Homo sapiens: one gene and its partners. The protein of the gene in region 4 purifies or fractionates together with the protein of the main gene of each other region. This does not show direct contact. Each region holds a gene or a part of one and is shown on either strand. Other genes may lie near its edges. The genes, in order: PGAP4, GTF2IRD1, SURF4, ADORA2B, REEP5, TMEM87A and XPO5.

Region 1 (3,500 bases), on a different chromosome or scaffold from region 4:
ATACAAAACAGCACTCAACATTTCTTATCCATCTTTGGTAGCATGTGTTGGCATTTCTGCAGAGTAGATTCCTAGAAGTAGGATCGTTATGTCAAAGGGGATGCACTTATAAAATTTTTATAGATACTGCCCCAACACCCCAACATTTCCTCCAAAGATTGCACCAATTTATATTAAAGTGCCTAGTTGTTGAACTGTGACACTCCCTCGAAGTAAATTAAATTCAGATGTTAAATATAGAGATTAATTATGGAGAAAGGGAGCTCTATTACCAAGTCTTTCCACCTAAGCATTATTTTTCTGTTTATTAATGACTTTTTAATTACCCTTTGGTAGAATTTTGTAGTATGTGTGTATATTCTGCATATTTCTGAAATTTATTTCTAGATATTTGAGTTGCTTATTTTTTTCCCTTTTGACTGGGATCTTTTACTCCCTTAGTTCATTGGTGATCATGTACATGAAAGCAGTCATTATAATATAGATAATATAGATACAGATATGGATATGTAATGCATATATATAGTACATGTGTATATATACTTGCTATGTATATTATATATTATTTTTACATATTAATTCTGGTACCAACCATGTTTTGAGTCTATTGCCATTTCTAATGGTTTTTCAGTTGATTTTCCTGGGCTCCAAATTTATGTAGGCAGTAGTGCATATTGGTTGAGAATGTGGGTTCTGGACACAGTCTGCCTGGGTTCAAGTTTTGCCACCCTGCTTAAAAACTTAGTTTTCTAAAGTATAAAATGGGCTTAATAGTCATACTTCTTGGAGGCTTTTTATGAGGATCGATAGATGAGATGCTTAGAACAGTGCCTGGCACATAAGTGTTCTGGAAACATTTACAAATAAGTCGATCTCTACACAGTATATGACCAGCTCTTTGATACTACCAATTTTATAGCTGAGGACCTGAGACCCATAGAGGTCAAAAGAAGCCAATTATTTGCTTAACAAGCATTGAGCATCTTCTATGCATAGTTCTGTGCTGGGTCTGTGAGGGATACCAAAGATAAATCAGACTGAATCTACTAAAAAAGGATTCAAGAGTCCAATCAGATCGTAAGTCAAGGACCATAAACAAGGCCATGGAAGACAACAGGCATCATAGAAAAACATGAGCTTTGAAATTTATCCTTGTCCTTGAATTTCCTCTTGCAACTTGGTAGCATCAGTTTTGTCAACTAAATGGGATTAATTCCATTGCTATTTTGAGAGTTGCTATTTTGTTCAGAAGAAATAGATGCAAGGGTCTAGCACAACATTGGGATATGTAGTATGGCCTTAATAAGCGGTAGCTATAAATAGATGAGTCTGAAGTAGAAAGTGACAAATGAATGCCCTGGAGGAAAAGTTCATAGAAAGGGCCCCAGTACTTGAGGGGAAAAAAAGAGATTCTTTCTGGTTGGAAAGGTCAGGGTTGGGTTTTGGAAGAGGTACCTTTTGAGCTAATTCTTGATGGTTGAGTTAGACAGTGTGAGGAGCAAAAATGCAGCTGGGAAGATAGTTGGAACTGGATTGTGAAGAATCTTGGCAAATAATTTGGACTTTATTCTACAGTCATGGGGGAATCATTGAATAGTTTTACAGAAAAGAGTGCCATGTTCTGACTTATGCTTCAGAGTATCAGATGGATGCTGATCAAGTAAAACATCACCATCATTTGCACAGTGTCCTATGCCTGACAAAGGGCTATCATAGCTGTTGTCTCTTCATCGTCACAGTCTCACTGTGTTGCCAGGCTGGAGTGCAGTGGCATAATCTGGCTCACTGCAACCTCCGACTACCTGGTTCAAGCGATTCTCCTGCCTCAGCCTCCTGAGTAGCTGGGATTACAGGCACGTGCCACCACACCCAGCTAATTATTGTATTTTTAGTAGAGATGGCGTTTCACCATGTTTGCCAGGATGGTCTCGATCTCCTGACCTCGTGATCCGCCTGCCTCGGCGTCCCAAAGTGGTGGGATTACCGGTGTGAGCCACCGCGCCTGGTTGAAGTATCTTTTATTTTCCTGTTTCACAGAGAAATAAAATAGGCTCAGAGAGATAAATGATTTTTTTATACAAATTGATCAAATTAGTGAGTGTTGGGACGAGAATTGGACCTAGATCTTTTGGCTTGTGTTGCTCATTCTGGAGGTCAGAAGCTCTGTTAGGAGCCTGTTGCAATCAGCTGGCTTGGAGGTGCTGAGGAGGAACTAGAGTGTGGCAGGGAGGAAAGCTTGACAAGGGGAAGGCGAGGGGAAAAGAGAGGCATAATAAAAGAGGCCGTAGAGGTGGGATTAGGAAGTGACTGCGTGGAGGTGAGAAGTTAGAACTAACTAGTGTTTTAGACTGAGTTGCCTGGGAAAGTGGTCGTGCCATTCATATAGTGGATTTGGGAAACACAGAACATTCTTGAGCACTCATCCCCTGACTCACACCCTGGTATTGTGTCTTCCACACCCGTGGATCCTTTAGTTTAATTTTCAGAAGTTGCACTAAAATATAACTATTGTTGTAGCTCCATTTATTCATCTAAGCCCTAGTTCATGTTCATTTCTCAGAGTCTGTGTCCTTTACTGTCTTCCCTGAGCCCTACACTCTAGATATGGTAACAGGTAGAGAATTCTGTTTAGGGAAGGGTTGTGTTTCAAAGAGCACATGCAAAGCATAGATAAGAACTGGATATGTATTGTTCTGTAGAATCGGAGCTGTAATGGTGTAACTGTTATTAGGTCAGCTCATAGGTGCCAGTCAGTCCACAGTGTCTCTGGAGTGTGGGCCTCAGCCTGTGACATCATGGGCAACTGGAATTCTGGAAAAAGACAATCAGAGTGGTAACATAGACATAGCCCTCTTGTCTCACCCTTATGATTGGGCTGGGAGTAAAAAAACTCCTTCCCCAAACTAGCAGTGAAAAATCCTATGTTTTTATATCTGTTCCCCTAAGGCCATTTATCTTTTATCTTTTTTTGTTTGTGTGTTTGTTTGTTTTTGTTTGAGACAGGGTTTTTCTCTGTCAACCAGGCTGGAGTGCGGTGGTGCGATCACAGCTCACTGCGGCCTCGACCTGCTGGGGCTCAGGCAATCCTCCTGCCTCAGCCTACTGAGTAGCTAGGACTACAGGAACATGCTACCATGCCTGGCTAATTTTTGTATCTTTTGTTGAGACTAGGTTTTGCCATGTTGCCCAGGCTGGTCTCAATCTCCTGGGCTCAAGCCATCCACCTGCCTCAGCCTCCTAAAGTGCTGGGATTACAGGCTTCAGGCACCACATCCAGCTGGCCATTCTTCTTAAAACCAGATCAGTAAGGTGAAATAAATTATAGGTGCCATTGGACACCACAGGCTACTGTGCAACAATTGGTTAAATCTTTTAAAAAAATGTTTTAAAAAGTAAACAAGAACATACTCCTGAATGACTACATAACTCCATGTGGTTGGATTTTCAGCAAAGCAGTCATCTAATCTTGAATGAAGGATCTGATCCCAGCTCCTGTGTCC
Region 2 (3,500 bases), on a different chromosome or scaffold from region 4:
TAGCTAGGTGCAGAGGCTGAGGTGGGAGGATCACATTGAGCCCAGGAGTTGGAGGTTGCAGTGAGGTAGGATCACGCCACTGCACTCCAGCCTGGGAAACAGAGTGAGACACTGTCTCAAAAAATAGAATAAAATAAAAATGAAAAAGGACCCTGCTGGCTGGGTACAGTGGCTCACTTCTGTAATTCCAGCACTTTGAGATCACTTGAACTCAGGAACTGGGCAACATGGCGAAACCCCATCTCCACCAAAAATACAAAAAATTAGCCGGGCACGGTGGCGTGTGCCTGTGGTCCCACCTACTTGGGAGACTGAGCCAGAAGGATCGCTTGAGCCGGGGAGGGAGAAGCTGCAGTGAGCCGAGATTGTGCCACTGCACTCCAGCCTGGGTGACAGAGTGAGACCTCATTTCAATACAAATTAAAAAAAAAAAAGCCAAGATTCAGTGAATCAGCTCCACTCGATTCAAACTCGCTCCAGATCATCCCCGGGGCCTCCACTGAGCCCTGATCCCAACTCCAGGGTCAGCCACACACACCTCTGGCCCCTCCCCAAACCCCATCCATCTCACCGCCCCAGAGGCAGCAGTTGTAGGGTTGGCAGATAAAATGCAAGACCTCCAGTTCAGTCTGAACTACAGATCAACAACAGGTAACTTTTAGCTAGAAGTTCATCCCAAATATTGCATTAGTCCTTGCTTGTCTGAAATCCAATTTTAGCTGGGCATCCTTATTTTTATTTGCTAAATCTGGCAACCTGAAGCAGGTGGTCCTGAAAGAGGGTGACAGGTGGGCACACAAATAGCTCTGGGTCAGCCAGGCCCCAGCTCAGGGGCGAGAGAGTTCTGTTCACCGCCTGAGACACTCCCTAAGACCGTGTAAGATAAAGTACATCCTCACCCATTTCACCTATCTTATTCAGGACACCTATCTTATCTTTTTTTTTTTGAGACAGAGTTTCACTCTTGTCGCCCAGGCTGGAGTGCAATGGTACGATCTCAGCTCACGGCAACCTTCACCTCTTAGGTTCAAGCAATTCTCTTGCCTCAGCCTCCCGAGCAGTTGGGATTACAGGCGCCCGCCACTACGCCTGGCTAATTTTTGTATTTTTAGTAGAGATGGGGTTTCACCGTGTTGGCCAGGCTAGTCAAACTCCTGACCTCAGGTGATCCGCCCGCCTCGGTCTCCCGAAGTGCAAAGTGCTGGGGATTACAGGCATGAGCCACCGCACCCGGCCCTAACTTATCTTAAATGGGCAAATTTCCAGGGCATGAACCCAGGTTCCTACAGACCTGGCCCCTTTCTGCACGACCCTCCATACTCATGAAGCCACAAACCTAGGTGCAGATTGGCCCAGAGAGAAGGGAATGGGACCGAGAATGGATCAGTTCCACAGGACGAGTGGAGAGAGAGCTACCAAAATAGGGTGGGTGAAGAAGTGATGATGAGGCCGGGCCTGGGGGCTCACACCTGTAATCCCAGCACTTTGGGAGGCCAAGGAGGGCCAATCACTTGAGGTCAGGGGTTCATTCAAGACCAGCCTGGCGAACATGGTGAAACCCCGTCTCTACTAAAAATACAAAAATTAGCCAGGTGTGGTGGTGTACATCTGTAATCCCAGCTACTCGGGAGGCTGAGGCACGAGAATCACTTGAACCCGGGAGGTGGAAGTTGCAGTGAGTTGGGATCGTGCCACTGCACTCCAGCGTGGGCAACAAAGCAAGACTCCATCTCAAAAAAAAAAAAAAGAAAGGGGGGTGATGGACCAGGGGGCTTTCCTGAAAAGCTTTCTGCCTCCAAAACCCACATTACCACACCCCCTACAGGCCAAAGCCCCTCTGCCACACCTGGAGATACCTGACTGAGAACTTCCAAAGTAGGCCAAGAAAGTGACAGGGTCCTGCCTCCCTTCCGGAGTATGGAGCCTGGGTAGAAAGCACATGTTTCTATGAGATGGGGCTGAGGGGATTCCGAGAGGCCAGGCCCCTCCTGCCGTATCTGGAGCCCCCAACATCTACACCTTGGAGACTGTTACCCCCTCACCAGCAATCATCTGTCACAACACACTGTCTTCTGGCCAGGTTCACGCATCTCCTTCTCCCCCAGAAACCATCCTTCCCACCACTCCACCTCTGCTATGAATTCCTTCAGGAAATTCCCTTCCAGTCACACTAAGGGTCCCTGTCCTAGCGGCCCCATATTATCCCGGAAGCCCCCCAATCAAAACTGAACTCAGGACCGGGCGCAGTGTCTCATGCCTGCAATCCCAGCACTTTGGGAGGCAGAGGCGGGCAGATCACTTGAGGTCAGGAGTTCTAGACCAGACTGGCCAACATGATGAAACCCCATCTCTACTAAAAATACAAAAATTAGCCGGGCGTGGTAGAGCATGCCTGTAATCCCGGCTACTTGAGGCAGGAGAATCGCTTGAACCCAGGAGGCAGAGGTTGCAGTGAGCCGAGATGGCGCCACTGCATGCCAGCCTGGGCGACAAAGTGAGACTCCCTCTCAAAAAAAAAAAAAAAAAAACAAAAACGTAACTCAGCATGGATTCCAAGCCCTGGGTCCTGCTCTGCTCCTCTGTTTATAAATTGGCCCTGCAGGTCTTCTTCCATGGGTGTCCCCTGAAGCCTCTGCAGGCCCCATGGAGCTGGGCATACACCCCTGGCTTGTCCCAAAGAACCTGGCTGTGACCCTGGCTGCCACGCATCTGAGAGAGAGATACTTACAAACGGCGAGAGTCAGAGAACTGAGAGATACAGAGAGGATGACATTGGGGAGCAAAGCCCCCAGGGTTAAGGTTGGGAGAAGACACAGGCTGGGGTAGTGGGGAGAGAGGGGGCCCCAGGAAGTTCAGGGAGAGACCCTGGGACTCCTACCAGGGTGGGGAACTTGCCCCAGAGATGAGCATTTAAGAAAAATAGGAGAGAGTCTGCTTAGCCATTTAGGTCAAGGCTCAAGAGCAGGATTTCATTCATTCATTCATTCAAACATGTAGCCATTTAACAAGTATTTGAGGAGCAAGCCTCCATCCCTTCCTGTCCCTAGTGCAATTGGGGAGAGAGATGTAAACATCTGAGTAAGATCAATGTTGGGACAAAGGAAGGAAAGGATGTTGGCTAGGCGCGGTGGTTCACTCCTGTCATCCCAGCACTTTGAGAGGCCAAGGTGGGAGGACTCCTCATGCCCAGGAGTTCGAAACCAGCCTGGGCAACATAGCAAGACCCCATCTCTACAAACAATAAAAAATTAACCAGGTGTAGTGGCCCTTGTCTGCGGTCCCAGCTACTTGTGAGGCTGGGGTGGGAGGGTGGCTTGAGTCCAGGAGTTCGAGGCTGCAGTGAGCTGTGATCACACTACTGCACCCCAGCCTGGGCACAGAGCAAGACTGTCTCAAAAAAAGAAAAAAAGAAAAAAAAGAGAGGACATCATGGGGATATAAAGGTGGAACCATGGCCAGCCCTGAGGACGAGGAAGTCTTCAGCCCAAAGATACCACAGC
Region 3 (3,500 bases), on a different chromosome or scaffold from region 4:
CCAATGCAGAGAACCAGCACAAGATGCCCATGTGCACAGTGTGACGCAACCTGCATCACACTGGGTGGTGGGAAAGGTGACGCCACACACCCTCCCCAGGTTCTGCCTCATGGCCCCGTTGCTCTCTAAATGCCCAGCAACAGTGTAATCACCCATATTCCATGGAAGAGAGAAAGCACACCACCGTGGCACACGATGTGCCACTGCTCTCAAGGAATGGCCTCACATCGTGGCCCAGCTGGGAAGCCCCAGCAAGGACACAAGCCTTTATCTCATCTGAACCTGGGGAAAAGCAACCACTGGGAAGGAAGAGCTCAACAGGAGGCTGTCCAGACCTCTGAGATGAGACGGAGCCGTGGTGGGACTCCCAGGGCAGGGTGTGGGTGTGGGGCGTGGACCCCAACAGCAGCAGAGAGGTAGACTGCAATCCATACCCAAGACAGACACCAGAGGTGTTCTGACTTGCTTCTAAAATGAGAGCTGTGAGCCACTCACTGGCCTGAGATGAGCAAACCAGCCCAGCCATGGGCTGCGGTCTAAGCCTCCCCCAGTTGCAGGACCTGCATTTAACATGCTCATCTACGTGCACAGCCCACGAGATTGAGGCAGTGTTTAAAAGTCTCTTTGAATGAGTCTGCGACTCTTAATTTGAGTGTCTGGGTCAAGAGGATTAAAGAGCAAAAAAGAGAGAGAAGGTGGGACAGGCAATTCACACCTCCTTCCCTGCGCAAACATGGTGACGAAACAGACACAGCTCTTGGCTTTGGGGAAAAATATGCAAAAATCTAGGTACTGCCTTCTGAACTGAGCACACCTACTGCTTGGCTGTCCTGGTTTTCAAAGGCAAGCCTGGTCCACACTGAAGGCTGAAGTCAGGCTGATGCAGTCTCCTCTAAACTGGCCACCATTTAATGAGCATCTGTTTGGACTGAACACTGAAAAAGCCACGTTTAAAGACAAGGCCCAACATTAACCTTATTTCCTACATGCATGTTGGTCACAACTACTTCAACTTGGCCACTGGAACCATGTCATGCCACTCTAGAACACGTCCCAGAGCCAGTGTCCCCTCAGCACAGCAGAGAAGAGCCCTCAACACAGGCAGGACACACAGCACCCCAGGACAGACAAGAGCAGCCGCACTGCAGGCACTAAGGCCATTGCTGGTAGCCAGCACACAGGTGACCTGTGTAAACACGGCGAGCACATAAAACTTGTGACAGTCCCCCTCCCCCCCATTAGAGAACTGCGACAGCAGAGCCAGAGGTGGCTGTTGACCTGGCAGGCTGCAGGAAGAAGATGACAGTTAGCTCACCTCTGTGGCCAAGCTTCTCATTAAGTCTCTCCGAGAACCGCGCCATCAAGCAGGATATGGTTCATAAGCAGTGACAGCATCTGAGGGGCTTAACAGGAAGACTGATATTTCTCTCAAAGGGGTGGTTATTTTAGACGACTGAAGGGGATTTTAGAAACGTAATTAATTATATCCACCCTGAGATGACTTCCTGGGCATCCAGTGATCACTGTCACAGCCACCTGCAGCTCCCACGCCACACAGAAAACTCCACTTTCTCTTCACACTCAGGACAGAAAGAAATTGAGGAAAGCAGCTTGCAAATTCGTGGTGAATGTGAACATCGACGAAAAAGGCAGGTCAGATTTCCTTGATCACCAAGGACTGGGGCTGCCTTGTTCAAAGCCCAACTCAGGTCCCACACATCCTAGAAACAAGCACCTGCGGCCCAGCGGCTTCCCTCACATCAGCCTGTCAGAGCTGGCTCGAGCTCACTGGCTCACTGCAGCTCCAGAACTTCCCCGAGCCCCGCTCCCATGCTGCTCTATAGGTTCACACTGCACCCTGCAGGGCCAGAAAGGATGTCGCCAGCCCAATGTGGGAGATGATGGCCTGGCTTTACTAAAAAACTGTGTGATCAAAATCCCAACTATAGGAAAGACGTAACTGAGAACGACTGGGCCCCATGTTCTGGGAGGAGCCCCGCTAACCACAACCTCCTCTGCTCCTCGCCCGCACTCCCCTGAAGAGTGAGTTTTAACCTCCCGTTAAGATCATCACACAAAGAAAAGTGAGTCAGCTCCTCTTTGCCTTCTCTCCCCACTCCTTCATGATATAGGGCAGGGTATGACAGAGCCTGCCACTGTCACCAGGACTTTGCCACACCAGTCACCAGCATGGTGTTCATCGGGACCCTCACAGTGCCTGTGCCACCTGCAAGTTCAGGGGTCCTCAGGCCTATCCTTGCTTCCCCAGCACTTCAACTAGGGCCGAGGCCAGCTCCTAGGGCCCAGGACTAGCTCTGCCACTCTTGAGGACAGGTTAAAAACACCAAAGGTCACACTGGAGAGGAAGGCCCCATGCAGCTTTTCTGTCACCTTGGTGATGAGCCACCAGGCAGAACCCATTAAGTGCTAATATTGCTGTTTATGGGTATAAACTGCTTAGAAGCTACATTTTACAGAGTGTCTAATAGGCAATGAGGAGCAGCTGCAGGCATGGACATTAGTTTGGATTGCTGAGTTCATTAGTTTCTGGACCCTTCCCATGGCTTCCAAATGCCAAGCTCCTGCATAGAGCACGTCTCAGCAGTTTCTACAGAGCATGGCTCCTGGGAGCAAGAGGACACTGTCCCTGGCTGCCAGAGCAAGCAGCTTGATGCCAGAGGCAGAGAGACAAGAGATGCAACTGTGGGGAGCCTGCCAGCAGAAACTAACCAGACTGCTCGTCCCCGTGGACCAGCCTCTGCAGGCCAGAAGGAAAGATCAGTCAACCAAGCAGTGAGGAACCCAGCCTTTGGGGTAACAGGATGCGGACTCAGTCTCCAGGCCACCACAAGCCAGTGCGGCCAGCCAACCTCCCTCTGCCCATCTGAAGATGGTGACGCTCTGGCCAACCTCCTACAGTCAAGAAGTTCACAAAAGGAATGTCTATCATGGACCCGGCCCAGTGAAAGACTTAATGTCATTGTCATAATACTGGAAGACACTGGGCCTGGGAAACTAAGCTTACTTAGGTCTTGCTTTCAGCAGCCCACACTTTCTGGTCAAATCTTGTCACTTCAGTTTTGCTCTTGTTTTCTGAAGATGTGAAAAAATGGATGTGTCACTTTATCTGATCAGTGACTTCCATGGTAATCCTCTATCGGCTTCAAATTAGGTCATTTTCATGTAAAAGCCTGGTCTGGCAGCTTTAAGTACTATGTGAATAAAGAGAAACAAAGCCCCACCTGGGCTTGGTCAGATTCTGTCCACAAGAAGCCATATTTTGACTTCGAACCCTGTTTACTTGCCTGCATCTGTCTGATTGGGGTTTGGGCGAGTACAAGTAGCTGCCCTCCCAAGCTGCCCACAAAAGGGCATGGAAGCTCCCACAGCCATGCTCTGCCACCACCTAGACGGACTCTTAAGGAGATCATCTGACGGCGGCAGCCTGCGCTGCCTTACAGATATGGTGCCTTACAGATATGGTCCTAACCCACTTGGGT
Region 4 (3,500 bases):
TATATATATATATATATATATATATATATATTTTTTTTTTTTTTTTTTTTTTTTTTTTTTTTCTGAGACAGAGTCTCACTCTGTCACCCAGGCTGGAGTACAGTGATGCCATCTGGGCTCACTGCAGCCTCCGCCTCCCAAGTTCACATGATTCTCCTGCCTCAGTCTCCTGAGTAGCTGGCACATGCCACATACCCAGCTAATTTTTGTATTTTTTAGTAGGGACGGGGTTTCACTATATTGGACAGGCTGGTTTTGAACTCCTGACCTCGTGATCCGCCTGCCTTGGCCTCCCAAAGTGCTGGAATTACAGGTGTGAGCCACCATGCCCGGCCGAATAATTATACTTTTAATTTTTGAGGTCACCTTCCTGGCAACAAGTATACATTTTTAGTACAGTCAACTTTTATTTTTCCATTGCCTCTAAGTTAAAAAGTATTTGCATTATAATAGTTCACACTGTTTCACAGTAAAATAGTTTCAGTAATTTTCCACCATAAACAAGGCAGACTTTTAAAAACAAAAGAGTCTGTTAGAATCCATTCAAGCTGTTGGCATAATCCACACAGTAAAAGCAGCTGAATAGATCATAAATATATTTGTCAATCCTTGGAGCCTACTACTGACACATACATATTAGCTAGATACGTGGTAGCTCCAGGGAAGTGCTCAAGAGAGGCAGTCCATTTCCTTGTGAGGTGTAGCTATCTTTCACAATGAAAACCAGCCGTGTCCTCTTTGTTTCTTGTGGATTTGTATCTTCTCCTGGAAGAGGCGAGAGCCTAGATCATAGGCCCACACCGAGAGCAGGCTGTACCCCAGCCTGACCATTCCCACTCTTGACATCTGCTTGGCAGAGAAGATACCTGGAGATAATTTTGTGAAAAGTGTAGCGGAAGTCTCGGTTCCGGTAAGCATAGACAATGGGATTGACAACTGAATTGGCATGTGACAGAAGAATGGCCATATTCATTGCCCACTTGGGCTTATTTTTACCCTGAGCTGGCTGGAAAAGAGTGACACAGTTAACAGCATGCACAGGTAACCAGCACAGGGCAAAAATCCCCACAATCATGGCCAGTGACTTGGCTGCATGGATCTCCCGCTGGAGGGTGGTCCTCGAGTGGTCCATCAGCTCAGTGCGCTGAAGCTGCCTGCAGGCCACCAGGAAGATCTTAATGTAGATCACCAGCATTATAAGCAGTGGGGGCAGAACACACCCAAAGAAATTGAAATATACCATGTAGCTCATGGGGACCACATTCTCAAAGAGACACTTCACAAGGCAGCAGCTTTCATTCGTGGTTCCATCCCAGGGTTCTGTGCAGTTGTTGGTGGCACTGTCTTTACTGTTCCACCCCAGGAATGGAGTCAATCCGATGCCAAAGGCAAGGACCCAGAGGACAGCAATGACCCCTCTTGCTCGGGTCCCCGTGACCAAACTTTTATACCTGTTTAAAAGAATACCATCTGTTACGGTCAGTTTATAGCGCTCTGCAACCACAATCCAAGACCCCACCTCCTCTTTTTTCCATGACCCTTTAACAACCTCTAAAGTTCACCTTCCAGGGCACTAAGGCCTTTACCCTCAATACTAAAGACATGCAAGCAGGGATGAGCAGCTTTGCTCTAGAAAACTCAGTAAGATCTTCATTCTTGACTTAGCAACTCCTTTCTGTTTAGTGACACAGGATGGCCAATGACAAGAGGTGGGGAAGCCTTAAGGGAGTACTGTAAGTCCTCAATGTCCTCGGTGGGTTCTCAAACTGTGACTTGAAGTATATGTCATAGGAAGTTAACTCTTGTTTATATTGTTAAATCAAGTTTAGCCTAAAGCTGCCTCCTTACATATTTTAAATTTGGCCTAAAGGTTTCTCTGTACATCGTGGACTACAACAAGTGGACGTGTAAACAGACTATAGCCTGCACTCATGCCAATCCTCGACTTTTGGCCAATCAAATGTGGCCAACTGTTCGAACCCTGTTCAAAAAGGGCAAATGCTGAGCTATAACCAATCCAGCTGTTTCTGTTCCTCACTTCCATTTTCTGTACGTCACTTTTCCTTTTTCTGTCCATCACTTTCTTTTTTCTGTCCATAAATTATCTTCCACCACGTGACTGCACTGGAGTCTCTGAGCCTGCTTTGGCTCAGCAGGCTGCACAATTTGTGAATCATTCTTTGCTCAATTAAGCTCTTTTAAATTGAATTCAGCCGAAGTTTTTCTTTTAACAGTATCAACTGTGGTAAAATTGGCTTTGTTATACAGTGCATCATTTTGCTTCAAGTCACAGTTTCCAAAAACCGATCGACTTCCTATACTTCCTACCTACCTAGGTACCGCTCTTTGAGTCTAGGTCTTCTGTAAGGCATTGTTCTAGGTCAGTGGTCCCCAACCTTTCTGGCACCAGGGACCAGCTTCATGGAAGACAATGTTTCCACAGACCAGGGGCGGGGGGTGATGCATTAGATTCTCATAAGGAGCGCACAGCGTAGATCCCCTGCGTGCACAGTTCACAATAGGGTTAGCTCCTATGAGAATCGAATGCTGCTGATCTGACAGGATGCAGAGCTCAGGCAGTAATGCTCGCCTGCCTGCTCACCTTCTGCTGTGTGGCCCAGTTCCTAACAGGCCACGGACCAGTACTAGTCTGCAGCCCAGGGGTTGAGGAACCCTGTTCTAAGTGCTTGAGATACATCAGTGAACAGAACACACAGAGATCCCTACTAAATTTTAACAGACTCAGATCTAGCAGGGGTAAACATAATAATAAACAGTATGGAGATATATGTGGTATGAAACATGAAAAAGCAGAGTAAGAAAGATCAGGATGGGCAGGACTGTAGTTTTAAAGAGGCTGACATCATGGATAAGGTGACACTTGAACAAAGGCCTGAGGCAGTAAGCACTGGAGTCAGCACCACCTGTGGCTCCAGGCAAGGATCTTTCTGGCTTCCCACAAACACCACAAGACATTTGCCTAGGACTATGGGCAGAATCATTTCTGAATACCTCTGCAGACTGCTGGAGAACAAGAGTCTAGCAGTGCCCCTGTCTACTGAGAAATACTAGCAGCAGAGTTGATAAAAATTGGGAAATAGCAAATATTAAATTTTTTGGTCATCTTCAAGCCATTAGATCACAAGTTGGAGACCAGCCTGGGCAACATGGTGAAACTCCATCTCTACAAAAAAGTACAAAACTTAGCCGGGCACGGTGGTGTATATCTGTGGTTCCAGCTATTTCGGGAGAATGAAGTGGGAGAGTCAGGATCACTTGAGCCCAGGAGGTTGAGGCTGCAGTGAGCTGTGATTGCACCACTGCACTCCAGCCTGGGTGACAGAGCAAGACCTTATCTCAAAAAAACAAACAACAAAAAAATACTAGAAACCACTACTGGGGATACCAATACAAAGGGACAAGATCCTAGTCCTTAAGAGGTTTGACCAGTATCCAGTTGAGAGATACAACATGTATCAGATAAGCAGGCTCTATGACAA
Region 5 (3,500 bases), on a different chromosome or scaffold from region 4:
ACTCACACCTAAGACACATAGGTACATACTATGTGTTCTGTGCATGGTTCATAAGTAACTCAGTTGCTACAATTCAAACTAGCCAAATGACATAAAATTAAGTAATAGTATGTCTTCACAGCATTGGCTTTATTATTCAAACCAGTTGTACCAATATCAACTATTTACCAGAGACTGACAGTGTGGAAAAAAAAGCAGTTCATTAAAATATATCTATATATCCATTTATACCCATATATATTTTAATTTTATCCATATATATGGATAAAAAGCTTTAAGATGTCCTATTGGTAAAGAACAGAAAGGAATCATCTTCTGGTCCATCTGCTTTATATTTTATTTCTAATGTGGTAACTTATGTTTAATAGCAAATATTCCAGAGGTTAAGATAGGTTCTTTGGAAATTGAATATGAAGAACATGGACCATAATGTTTATAATCCTTTTTGTTATGGCAGACACATAACTTGACCATCCTCCATGCCCACCATGCATGGGATTGCTTTTGGCTGTATTTATCAGAGAGTATGATGTAGGAATTCTTAGTAATTCAAAATGGTTTTCCTATTATCAGTACCTCAAATAAGAAGGAAAAAAGAATCAGACATTTTAAGACATAAACACTAGTTCGTTTCCATGCCAATAAGGAAAATATTTTTCTCCTTCATAGAAAAAAAGAAGGCAGGAAACTATGCGTGATCAGAAAGTTACATATCTTTTTCACTGCAGAGTATATGTGCTTTTAAAGCAAGAGAGAAAACCAACAAACAGTACGAGAAAGACTAATGAAAGACTGACCGGGCACAGTGGCTCATGTCTGTAATCCCAACACTTTGGGAGGCCAAGGCAGATGGATCACCTAAGGTCATGAGTTCAAGACCAGCCTGGCCAACATGGTGAAACCCCATCTCTATTAAAAACACAAAAAATTGGTGGCAGATGCCTGTAATCCCAGCTACTTGGGAGGCTGAGGCAGGAGAATCGCTTGAACCCGGGAGGTGGAGGCTGCAGTGAGCTGATTGCGCCACTGCACTCCAGCCTGGGCAACAAGAGGGAAACTCCATCAAGAAAGAAAGACAGAAAGAAAGAAAGACAGACAGACAGAAAGGAAAAGAAAGAAAAGAAAGAAAGAAAGGAAAGAAAGAAGAAAGAAAGAGAAAGAAAGAGAAAGAAAGAAAAAAAGAAAAGAAAAGAAAAAAGATTACAGAGGCAGTGGAGTGAGAATAGCTAGAGCCTGGGAGGTCAAGGCTGCAGTGAGTCATGATTGCACCACTGCACTGCAGCCTGGGTGACAGAGTATGACCCTGGCTAAAAAAAAAAAAAAAAAAAAAAAAAAATTAAGATGAGTCTATAGAATACCTATAATGAAGTATAAAGAAAAAAATGCAGTCATTCAGTGGTCAAATCTTTTGGTGTTTAATTACAGTGATCTCATTTACCACTATCCACCATTTTGTTTTTAAATGCAAAATGGAAGAGTCAGTCACAGTCAAATATAACAATGCGGAATGTGGACAGACATCCCTACACTTAAGACTGAATTGGTCCCAACACACCTGTGACCTATGTCAATTAACTTCAGTTTGTGGCCTTGATTTCCACATCTGTTACAGGTGGCTATCACCCTAGCAGCTTAGTCTCTAAGACCCCTTTTAGCTAACATTTTATAACTCAAAACTGAATGTGTGTGTGTTTGTGTGTGTGTGTGTGTGCACCCAGGAGTTTGAGACCAGCCTGGGCAACATGGCAAAACCCCATCTCTACAAAAAATACAAAAAATTAGTACACACCTGTAGTCCCAGCTACTCCAGAAGCTGAAGTGGGAGAATCACCTGAGCTTGAGAAAGTCAAGGCTGCAGTGAGCTGTGTTCATGCCATTGCACTCAGCCTGGGTGACAGAGTGAGACCCTGTCTCAAAAAAAACACACTCAAAAAAACCAGGCTGGAGTGCAGTGGCGCAATCTCGGCTCATTGCAACCTGTGCCTCCTGGGTTCAAGCAATTCTCCTTCCTCAGCCTCCCAAGTGTGTGTGTGTTTTTTTGAGACAGGGTCTCACTCTGTCACTCAGGCTGAGTGCAGTGGCATCAACACAGCTCACCACAGCCTTGACTTTCTCAAGCTCAGGTGATTCTCCCACTTCAGCTTCTGGAGTAGCTGGGACTACAGGCGTGTACTAATTTTTTGTATTTTTTGTAGAGATGGGGTTTTGCCATGTTGTCCAGGCTGGTCTCAAACTCAAGCAATCCACCCATCTCAGCCTCCCTGCCTGTCCCCCCAAAAAAACTGTTTGAATGATTGATGGTAAAAAAGATTAATGCCAGGAGCAATAAAAGAGCAGATGCAAATCCCACTGGGACAACCCTTTGTCAATAAAACCAGTGGTTCTATAAGTATCTGTGTCAGATTGGTATCATAAAGTTTAACTTAATCTCAAGTAACCTCACAACTTAGAAGGGGAACAACCTAAGCTGCCTTTTCCTAGGTAAAGGAGGGCCACCTTAGATGCGGACCGCAGTCTAGACAAGTGAGCGATCCCTTAACTAGATCACTTGGTCTATCAGAGGCTGCAGGATATATATAGTAGACACATGACTCAGAGTGACTGATAAGCTCCACTCCCTGGAATCAGGAAAGTGTGCAAGTGACAGAATGAAGTCAGGGTACGTTTCTACAGCCCCCACTTATATTTCAGCTGCTACAAAAAGTAATTTCATTCACAATTTTGAAATTGTTTTAAAACTTCTGCCATATTAATTCATACTTCCCCAAAATTAATTGTTAATGTTATGAATCACCACTAAATACCTTAACATGTTATATTTGTATTTATACTTGTTTTAAATGCCATGTGAAAAAATTAAGTTGAAAACTGAGTCCTCATTCAAAGTCAGTCCTGAAAAAGAGAAGTCCAGGTCAGAAGGAGATGAGGGAGGCTACGACAGAAAGAAGGACAAATAGACTAAATCTCCAGGGCCTTCATAAAGAGAAAAAAAAAAGCTCATAAGGAACATTCCAGAATAGAGTATTAGAAATGAGATCCTCCTCCACAACTGCTTTAGAGCCCAGAAACTCTGATCATGAATAAATAATTTAAATCATTCATCTTATTTGCTTTTTAAAACTTTATTTTCTTTATGACACAGGCAAGCGGGCGAACCTTAACTGAAACGCTGGCTGTCATTATTTTACAAAATAGTCACAAGTTGTTATAAGGATATTTTTATTACTTTTTCATTTCTCCACAACACTTTCATCTTAAAAGAGTCCAGCACTCTTAGCAGTAATGTTAAGTGAAACAAGGACAGTAAAAAAGTTGAGGAAGGTTAAATGTTTAAATGCTTAAGATTTCAGATTTAAATTAAGTAAATTAAAGATTTAAATGTTTAAGTAAATTGCTTAAGTCACAGTTTGCAGAATGCCTGTTATATTTTTTATCCAAGTGCACATCGGCCAGAAGGCCACATTGGCTTGTGCTTCATACTACCCCAGAAGGCAAAGCGC
Region 6 (3,500 bases), on a different chromosome or scaffold from region 4:
GTTTGGGATGATAAAAGTACTAGAGATGGGGCTCAGCCCGGTGGCTCACACCTGTAATCCCAGCATTTTGGGAGGCCAAGGTGGGTGGATCACTTCAGGTCAAGAGTTCAAGACCAGCCTGGCTAACATGGTGAAATCCTGTCTCTACAGAAAATACAAAAAAAATTAGCCAGGCGTAATGGTGTGAATCTGTAGCCCTAGCCACTTGGGAGGCTGAGGTGAAAGAATTGCTTAGATCCGGGTGATGGAGACTGCAGTGAGCCGAGATTGTGCCACTGCACTCCAGCCTGGCGGACAGAGCAAGAATCTGCCTTGGGGAAAAAAAAAGTACTGGAGATGGGTCGATGGCTGCACAGCAATGTGAATATATTTAATGCCACTGTATTATACACTTAGAAATGGTTAAAATGGTAAATTTTATGTAGTGTATATTTTACCACAATAAAAAAATGGGGGTTTGCTTTTTACACACAAAGCAAAGTACAACCTCTCTTTGATGAGTATGTATAAGTGGCTGACTATGTACCTATCAGAACATGCTTCCACTTACTTCTGCCAAAAGAAATACTTGAGAAGTCGGAAGTGGATACAGCCAAAAATATATACATTCCAATTTTTGCCTATTCTATTTATCTCCAATCACTTTCAAAGATTACCTGTGTTTTAAAGAGTTCACTGCAGTTCTGGAACAATTTTGATGATGTTTGATATTTCCCAGACAAGCCTCTTTTTTCCTTAAGTTTTTCCAAATACAACTCTACTTCTTCTGCCTGGAAAAAGAGATAATACAGAGTAGTTAACTCACCTTCCAAAAAATAAGATACTAAGAGCACAGCACAACAAACAGTTCACCTGCAGTACAGATACAATTTTGAGTTTGCTATTTTAAAAATGAACAGCATCAGATAAAGGCTCTATATAAAAATATCTAAGAATCAAACACTATCAGACTCAAGGACTATTAGACTCTAGTCTTTGGCTCACAAGGCATAGTTCTACTAACAATTCTGAGTAGACTGGGAAACTGCCAGAGTGTAGAGGGTTTTGTCACATTAAAATATACTTAAAAGATTTACTTGACCAAATTAACAACATCAACAAAAAAATATTCATGCTCATAAGCTAAGATAGAGCAGAAAATTGTTGCAAGCACAGAACTAGGATAATCTTCTTAAAAATGCAAATTGAGAGATAGAAACAGAATGGAAAAGGTCTGAAAAATTCAACTCAGAACTATATATATGTGTGTGTATATATATATATATATTTTTTTTTTAACTTTTATTTTAGGTTCCGGTATACATACGCAACTTTGTTATATAGGTAAACTGAACTCACAGGGAACTGTTTTACAGATTATTTCATCACCCAGGTACTGCCTAGTACTCAAGAGTTATTTTTTCTGATCCTCTCCCTCCTCCCACCCTCCACCCTCAAGTAGGCCCAGTGTCTGCCGTTCCCCTCTTTGTGATCATGTGTTCTCATCATTCAGCTCCCACTTATAAGTGAAAACGTGGTATTTCGCTTTCTGTTCCTGTGTTAGTTTGCTAAGGTTAATGGCCTCCAGCTCCTTCTGTGTTCTTGCAAAGGAAATGATCTCATTCTTTTTTATGGTTGCATATGTATCACATTCTTTTTTATGGCCGCATATGTACCACATTTATCCAGTTTACCATTGATGGGCATTTAGGTTGATTCCATGTCTTTGCTATTGTAAACAGTGCTGCAGTGAACATATATGTGCATATGTCTTTACGGTAGAATGATTTATATTACTTTGGATATATACCCAGTAATGGGATTGCTGGGTCAAATGGTAATTCTGTTTTTAGCTCTTTGAGGAATTGCCACAGTGCTTTCCACAGTGGTTGAACTAATTTACACTCCCACTAACAATGTATAAGCATTCCCTTTTCTCCACAACCTTGCCAGCATCTATTATCCTTTGACTTTCTCATAATAGCCATTCTGATGTGAGATGGTATCTCATTGTGGTTTTGATTTGCATTTCTCTAATAATCAACGATACTGAGCTTTTTTTTTTTCATATGCTTGTTGGCTGTATATCTTCTTTTGAAAAGTGTCTGTTCATGTCCTTTACCCACTTTTCTATGGGGTTGTTTTTTGCATATAAATTTGTTTAAGTTCCTTATAGAGGCTGGATATTAGACCTTTGTTGGATGCATAGTTTGCAAATATTTTCTCCCATTCTGTAGGCTGTCTACTCTATTGATAGTTTCTTTTGCTGTGCAGAAGCTCTTAAACTTAATTAGATCCCATTTGTCAATTTTTGCTTTTGTTGCAATTGCTTTTGGCGCAATTGCTTTTGGCATCTTCATCATGAAATCTTTGCCACTTCCCATGTCCAGAATGGTATTGCCTAGGTTGTCTTCCAGGGTTTTTATAGTTTTGGGTTTTACATTTAAGTCTTTAATCTATCTTGAGTTGATTTTTGAATATGGTGTGAGGAAGGGGTCCAGTTTCAATCTGCATATGGCCAGCACGCTACCGCAACACTATCTACTAAATAGGGAGTCCTTTCCCCATTGCTTGTTTTTTGTCAGCTTTGTTAAATATCAGATGGTTGTAGGTGTGCGGCCTTATTTCTGGGCTGTCTTCTCTGTTTCATTGGTCTTTGTGTCTGTTTTGGTTACTGTAGCCCTGTAGTACAGTTTGAAGTCAGGTAATGTGATGCTTCCAGCTTTATTCTTTGAGCAATATATTTTCAACGCTCAAGTATTCTAGATTATGGCAATTCTCAAAAGTGTGGCCGTTGAACCATAGACAAAACTATTTTCATGGCTGGGCACAATGGCTCACGCCTGTAATCCCAGCACTTTGGGAGACTGAGGCAGGTGGATCACCTGAGGTCAGGAGTTTGAGACCAGCCTGGCCAACATGGCAAAACCCCATCTTTACTAAAAATACAAAAATTAGCCGGGTGTGGTGGCAGACACCTGTAATCCCAGCTACTTGGGAGGCTGAGGCTGGACAATCACTTGAACCCAGGAGGCAGAGGTTGTGGTGAGCTGAGATCGCGCCACTGCACTCCAGCCTGGGTGACAGAGTGAGACTCCATCTCAAAAAAAAAAAAACTATTTTCATAATAATAATAGTATGCTATTTGACTTGTAACGATATTACAAAAGCAATAGTGGGTAAAACTGTTGCCCCTTATCAGGAACTAAGGCAGTGGCATTTAATTCTACTAGCAGTCATATTCTTCATAGTCACAAACTGGCAGTTTTTAAAAATGCCACTTTTATGTAAGAATATCCTAGATAAAGCAGTAAAAATTATTAATGTTATTAAATCTGGACCTTTTGAGTACCTGACTTTTTAAATAATCTAGGTGACAAAATGGAAAGCATGCAAAATACAATAAATTATTGTCTTGAGATAAAGCACTCTGCAATTGCTTTGACTTGTGAGTTAAACTAATCATTTTTTCCACGAAACACCATATTTACTTGAAAGAATGACTGAAAAACTACCATTAC
Region 7 (3,500 bases), on a different chromosome or scaffold from region 4:
GAAGAAAACCAAAGCAGTCCCAGGAAAGTCAGGCCTATAAGGTTATTATTTGGTAATTCTGTTATATGTCTTTATTTTGCCTAAATAAGCAAGGCAATTTAGGCGGAAGATAGCTCTTGTCTTGAGTATTTGGATAACTGCACTTTCCCATACTACAACTGTGAAAAGATCAGCTTGTTTTATATATATATATAGATATATATGTATATCTATATATATATGGAGATAACTGCTGTGCATTCAGAGAAGAAATTTCTGGATAATTTGTAATCTGGAGTAATGTTAAATTTCTTATAACCCCATGCCCCAAAAAGGGTTGTGATTTGCATCTGCTTTTCTCAAGATCAGGCACATCATTTGGCAGTAGTAATTAAGATCATCACATAGTAAAGAGTTGTAGAATTATAGGGGTAAACTTAGTAATCTATATGGCAGAGAACTATTTGTATTTTGAAGAGAGATTACATTTGCCATCACATTTCTAACTATACTACTAAGTATACTAAGAAAACACCAATTCAAGAATGTTTATTTATTTATTTTTGAGATGGAGTTTCGCTCGTTGCCCAGGCTGGAGCAATGGCGTGATCTTGGCTCACTGCAACCTCCGCCTCCTGAGTTCAAGTGATTCTCCTGCCTCAGCCTCCTGACTAGCTGGGATTACAGGCATGCACCACCATGCCCAGCTAATTTTTTTGTACTTTTAGTAGAGACCGGACTTCACCATGTTGTCCAGGCTGGTCCCGAACCCCTGGCCTCAGGTGATCTACCCACCTCAGTCTCCCAAAGTGTTGGGATTACAGGTGTGAGCCACCATGCCCGGCCAAGGATGCTTATATGATGCAAAGCTATAGTTTCTAGTTTTTTCTTTATGTGAGGTACACTGAAAGCTGGATTTACACACAAATGTAACCAAACTTGGCTACTTCAGCCAGGGTCCAGCAGCTTACCAGCACAAGCTGGGGGTAGTCACGACACATCTTGATGATGGAGGAACAAGCATGCCTCCTCACATTCCTCACTGCCCGGGTTCTGGGGGCCTGAAAAGAGACATTCAACAAACTCGGAGCTGCTTTTAATATAATATACAGGTGCTGCATAGACTCATGTGAATATCTCAGTCAGGGGCAAATTCACAATGATTTTTCACAACCCTAAGAGTATAATGGAGTAACATTTATAGCCACCAAGAATCCATGTTTCTTGTATGCCCTATAGTGGCAAAACAACATATATGATAATCTACCACCCTTACTACCCCCTCCCATTTATATAAAAATATAAACTGAGTATCAGGTATTCATACATTTGTACTCAAGAAGTTAGAATCTATTGGTTTAATTAATGGTCTTACCTTACTTTCTTCAACAGTTTCAAAAGTGACAGATGAAAATAGCTAAGGGAGAGGAGGAAAAAAGGTCACTCATGTTTATTTGTTTTAGAGATGAGATCTTGCTATGTTGCCCAGACTAGACTTGAATTCCTGGGCTCAACTGATTCTCCTGCTTTAGCCTTCTGAGTAGCTGGGACTACGGGCATGAGCTTATTCATACTGTCCATTTTCTCAGATAACCTCTACAAGAGTCATCGGAGTCACAATTTTACCATCAAAACATTTTACAATAGGATCCCAGAACAATTCATGCCATCACCCAAGCACTTGGCTATGGAAACGCCTCTCTCTTCTTTTATCAAAAGTTGTATGGTCTATCCCTTCTATTCCATTTCATTATTTCCCATTTACTCCTCATTCCAATGAAATATGGCTGCTTACTTGGCCACTATTATGGAATTAAACTCAGACAAGAGTGTAGTCAAGAAACTCACTGGGCATTCTCCAACTCAAATAATTTGCAACAAATGAGCCCACTTTTCTGAAGTCCTACTGGTCTTGTGACACAACATTTTCTTCATTTCTCTGGCTCTTTTTCCTTCTGTGGGGGCTTCTCATTTTTTTCTCCACTCCTCCAATGATGGTGATTCACTAGGTTCCTCGCTTGACTCACATGTCTCCTAACTCTACATACATAATCACTTCAGTAAGACTTCACTTTTAGTCGTGGGACTACTATGATGATGATGCTTTAATTTTATCTCATTACTTTCTAGAGTCTAGATCTTCAACCTCAAATAGCCAATTTATTGTGAGATGTCTCCATAAAGATGTTCTACATATTCTTCAAACACAGTATTCCAAAATACTCATGCTTTCTCTTCTTTAGTCCCGTTCTCCTTTGTGATCTGGTATTCTGACTCAGGGAGTGGCTCTATCACCCACCTAGTCAACTGAACTGGAAACCTGGAAAGTGTTCCTTCCTCTCATAAATCCCCTCCCTGCCCGACAGCACACTCTAATACTCTCCTTTATACAAGTCTTCATTGCAATGCCATATAGGTAACATTAACTGTTTTTGTGCCTTTCTTCCCAGAGTGTTCCTAAAGAGTGAGGCACTAGCATGGTACCTGATCCACAGTAAGTACTGAGTAGATATTTAATAAATGAATAAATAGCTGTGTTTATTAGTTTGCCTCACATAATTTTAAAAATAGTTACAAAAATAATTAGCCTAGGCCAGGCATGGTTGTGCATGCTTGTAGTCTCAGCTACTCAGAAGGGTGAGGTGTGAGGATCCCTTGAGACTAGTAATTTGAGTCCAGCCTGGGCAATGTAGCAAGATCCTGTCTCCAAAAAAATAAAATAAATAAAAATTAACTTAGAAATGTCAAAATAAAATTTACAAAGGAGATGGGCTTTATACCTTAGAGAAGACCTGGGGCAGGAACTCTGGTCTGTAGGTGACAAATGGAAAGAGTGCAGAGACATTAGTAAGGACGCAGGACAGGATGAGGGGATCCTTGGTATCAAAGTTCAGAACCATCTGCAATAGCTCTATTCCATCATTAACAGGAATTTCCTGTAACAAAGACATAAAACAGGTTGACAATGGCTGCCTCCACTTAGAAATAACCATTTTGGCTACATTTTATTTTCATCTTTTAAAGAGACAGGGTCTCATTCTGTCACCTAGGCTGGAGTGCACAGTGGCACAATCATCACTCACTGTAACCTCAAACTCTTGAGCTCAAGGGATCCTCCTGCCTTAGCCTCCTGAGTAGCTAGGACTACAGGCGGGCACCACCATGCCTGGATACTTTCTAAAATTTTTGTAGAGATGTTGTAGAAGTGTTGTTATGTCGACCAGGCTGGTCTCAAACTCCTGGTTTCAAGTGATCCTACGGCCTCAGCCTCCCAAGTAGGTGGGACTACTGGCACGCACCACCATGCCTGGCTAATTTTTTAAATTTTTAGTAGAGATGAGGTCTCACTATATTGTCCAGGCTGGTCTCAAACTCCTGGGTTCAAGCATTCCTCCCATCTTGGCCTCCCAAAGTGTTGGGATTACAAGTGTGAACCACCGTACTCAGCTGTGCGTGCCCTTCTTACCATCTTCTCAGCAGTGTATTATTCCCTAAAACCTCTTAAATTTTGTATTTCTTCA

What was found.
Region 1: the proteins of ADORA2B (region 4) and PGAP4 purify together in Homo sapiens (affinity purification with mass spectrometry; one large-scale study listed by BioGRID and IntAct). This does not show direct contact.
Region 2: the proteins of ADORA2B (region 4) and GTF2IRD1 purify together in Homo sapiens (affinity purification with mass spectrometry; one large-scale study listed by BioGRID and IntAct). This does not show direct contact.
Region 3: the proteins of ADORA2B (region 4) and SURF4 purify together in Homo sapiens (affinity purification with mass spectrometry; one large-scale study listed by BioGRID and IntAct). This does not show direct contact.
Region 5: the proteins of ADORA2B (region 4) and REEP5 purify together in Homo sapiens (affinity purification with mass spectrometry; one large-scale study listed by BioGRID and IntAct). This does not show direct contact.
Region 6: the proteins of ADORA2B (region 4) and TMEM87A purify together in Homo sapiens (affinity purification with mass spectrometry; one large-scale study listed by BioGRID and IntAct). This does not show direct contact.
Region 7: the proteins of ADORA2B (region 4) and XPO5 purify together in Homo sapiens (affinity purification with mass spectrometry; one large-scale study listed by BioGRID and IntAct). This does not show direct contact.

The regions. Positions count from the first base shown.
Region 1 is NC_000009.12:101,480,674-101,484,173, reverse strand, and holds part of PGAP4 (GPI-N-acetylgalactosamine transferase PGAP4), read left to right. Parts: intron 1-2,667; exon of another isoform or gene 2,668-2,811; intron 2,812-3,448; exon of another isoform or gene 3,449-3,500. UniProt on the Homo sapiens protein: Golgi-resident glycosylphosphatidylinositol (GPI)-N-acetylgalactosamine transferase that catalyzes the N-acetyl-beta-D-galactosamine transfer from an UDP-N-acetyl-alpha-D-galactosamine to the 4-OH-position of the first mannose of the glycosylphosphatidylinositol (GPI) of a GPI-anchored protein (GPI-AP).
Region 2 is NC_000007.14:74,456,906-74,460,405, reverse strand, and holds part of GTF2IRD1 (general transcription factor II-I repeat domain-containing protein 1), read right to left. Parts: intron 1-3,500. UniProt on the Homo sapiens protein: May be a transcription regulator involved in cell-cycle progression and skeletal muscle differentiation. May repress GTF2I transcriptional functions, by preventing its nuclear residency, or by inhibiting its transcriptional activation.
Region 3 is NC_000009.12:133,369,561-133,373,060, forward strand, and holds part of SURF4 (surfeit locus protein 4), read right to left. Parts: exon of another isoform or gene 1,362-3,500; coding exon of another isoform or gene 1,316-1,361; intron 1-1,315. UniProt on the Homo sapiens protein: Endoplasmic reticulum cargo receptor that mediates the export of lipoproteins by recruiting cargos into COPII vesicles to facilitate their secretion.
Region 4 is NC_000017.11:15,972,630-15,976,129, reverse strand, and holds the end of ADORA2B (adenosine receptor A2b), read right to left. Parts: intron 1,452-3,500; coding exon 788-1,451; 3' UTR 384-787; downstream 1-383. UniProt on the Homo sapiens protein: Receptor for adenosine. The activity of this receptor is mediated by G proteins which activate adenylyl cyclase.
Region 5 is NC_000005.10:112,912,228-112,915,727, forward strand, and holds part of REEP5 (receptor expression-enhancing protein 5), read right to left. Parts: intron 1-3,500. UniProt on the Homo sapiens protein: Plays an essential role in heart function and development by regulating the organization and function of the sarcoplasmic reticulum in cardiomyocytes.
Region 6 is NC_000015.10:42,263,434-42,266,933, forward strand, and holds part of TMEM87A (transmembrane protein 87A isoform 1 precursor), read right to left. Parts: intron 771-3,500; coding exon 657-770; intron 1-656. UniProt on the Homo sapiens protein: Potential monoatomic ion channel gated by mechanical force, implicated in normal touch sensitivity through the generation of mechanically activated currents.
Region 7 is NC_000006.12:43,548,539-43,552,038, forward strand, and holds part of XPO5 (exportin-5), read right to left. Parts: intron 2,916-3,500; coding exon 2,760-2,915; intron 2,474-2,759; exon of another isoform or gene 2,432-2,473; coding exon of another isoform or gene 2,430-2,431; intron 1,397-2,429; coding exon 1,355-1,396; intron 1,041-1,354; coding exon 951-1,040; intron 1-950. UniProt on the Homo sapiens protein: Mediates the nuclear export of proteins bearing a double-stranded RNA binding domain (dsRBD) and double-stranded RNAs (cargos). XPO5 in the nucleus binds cooperatively to the RNA and to the GTPase Ran in its active GTP-bound form.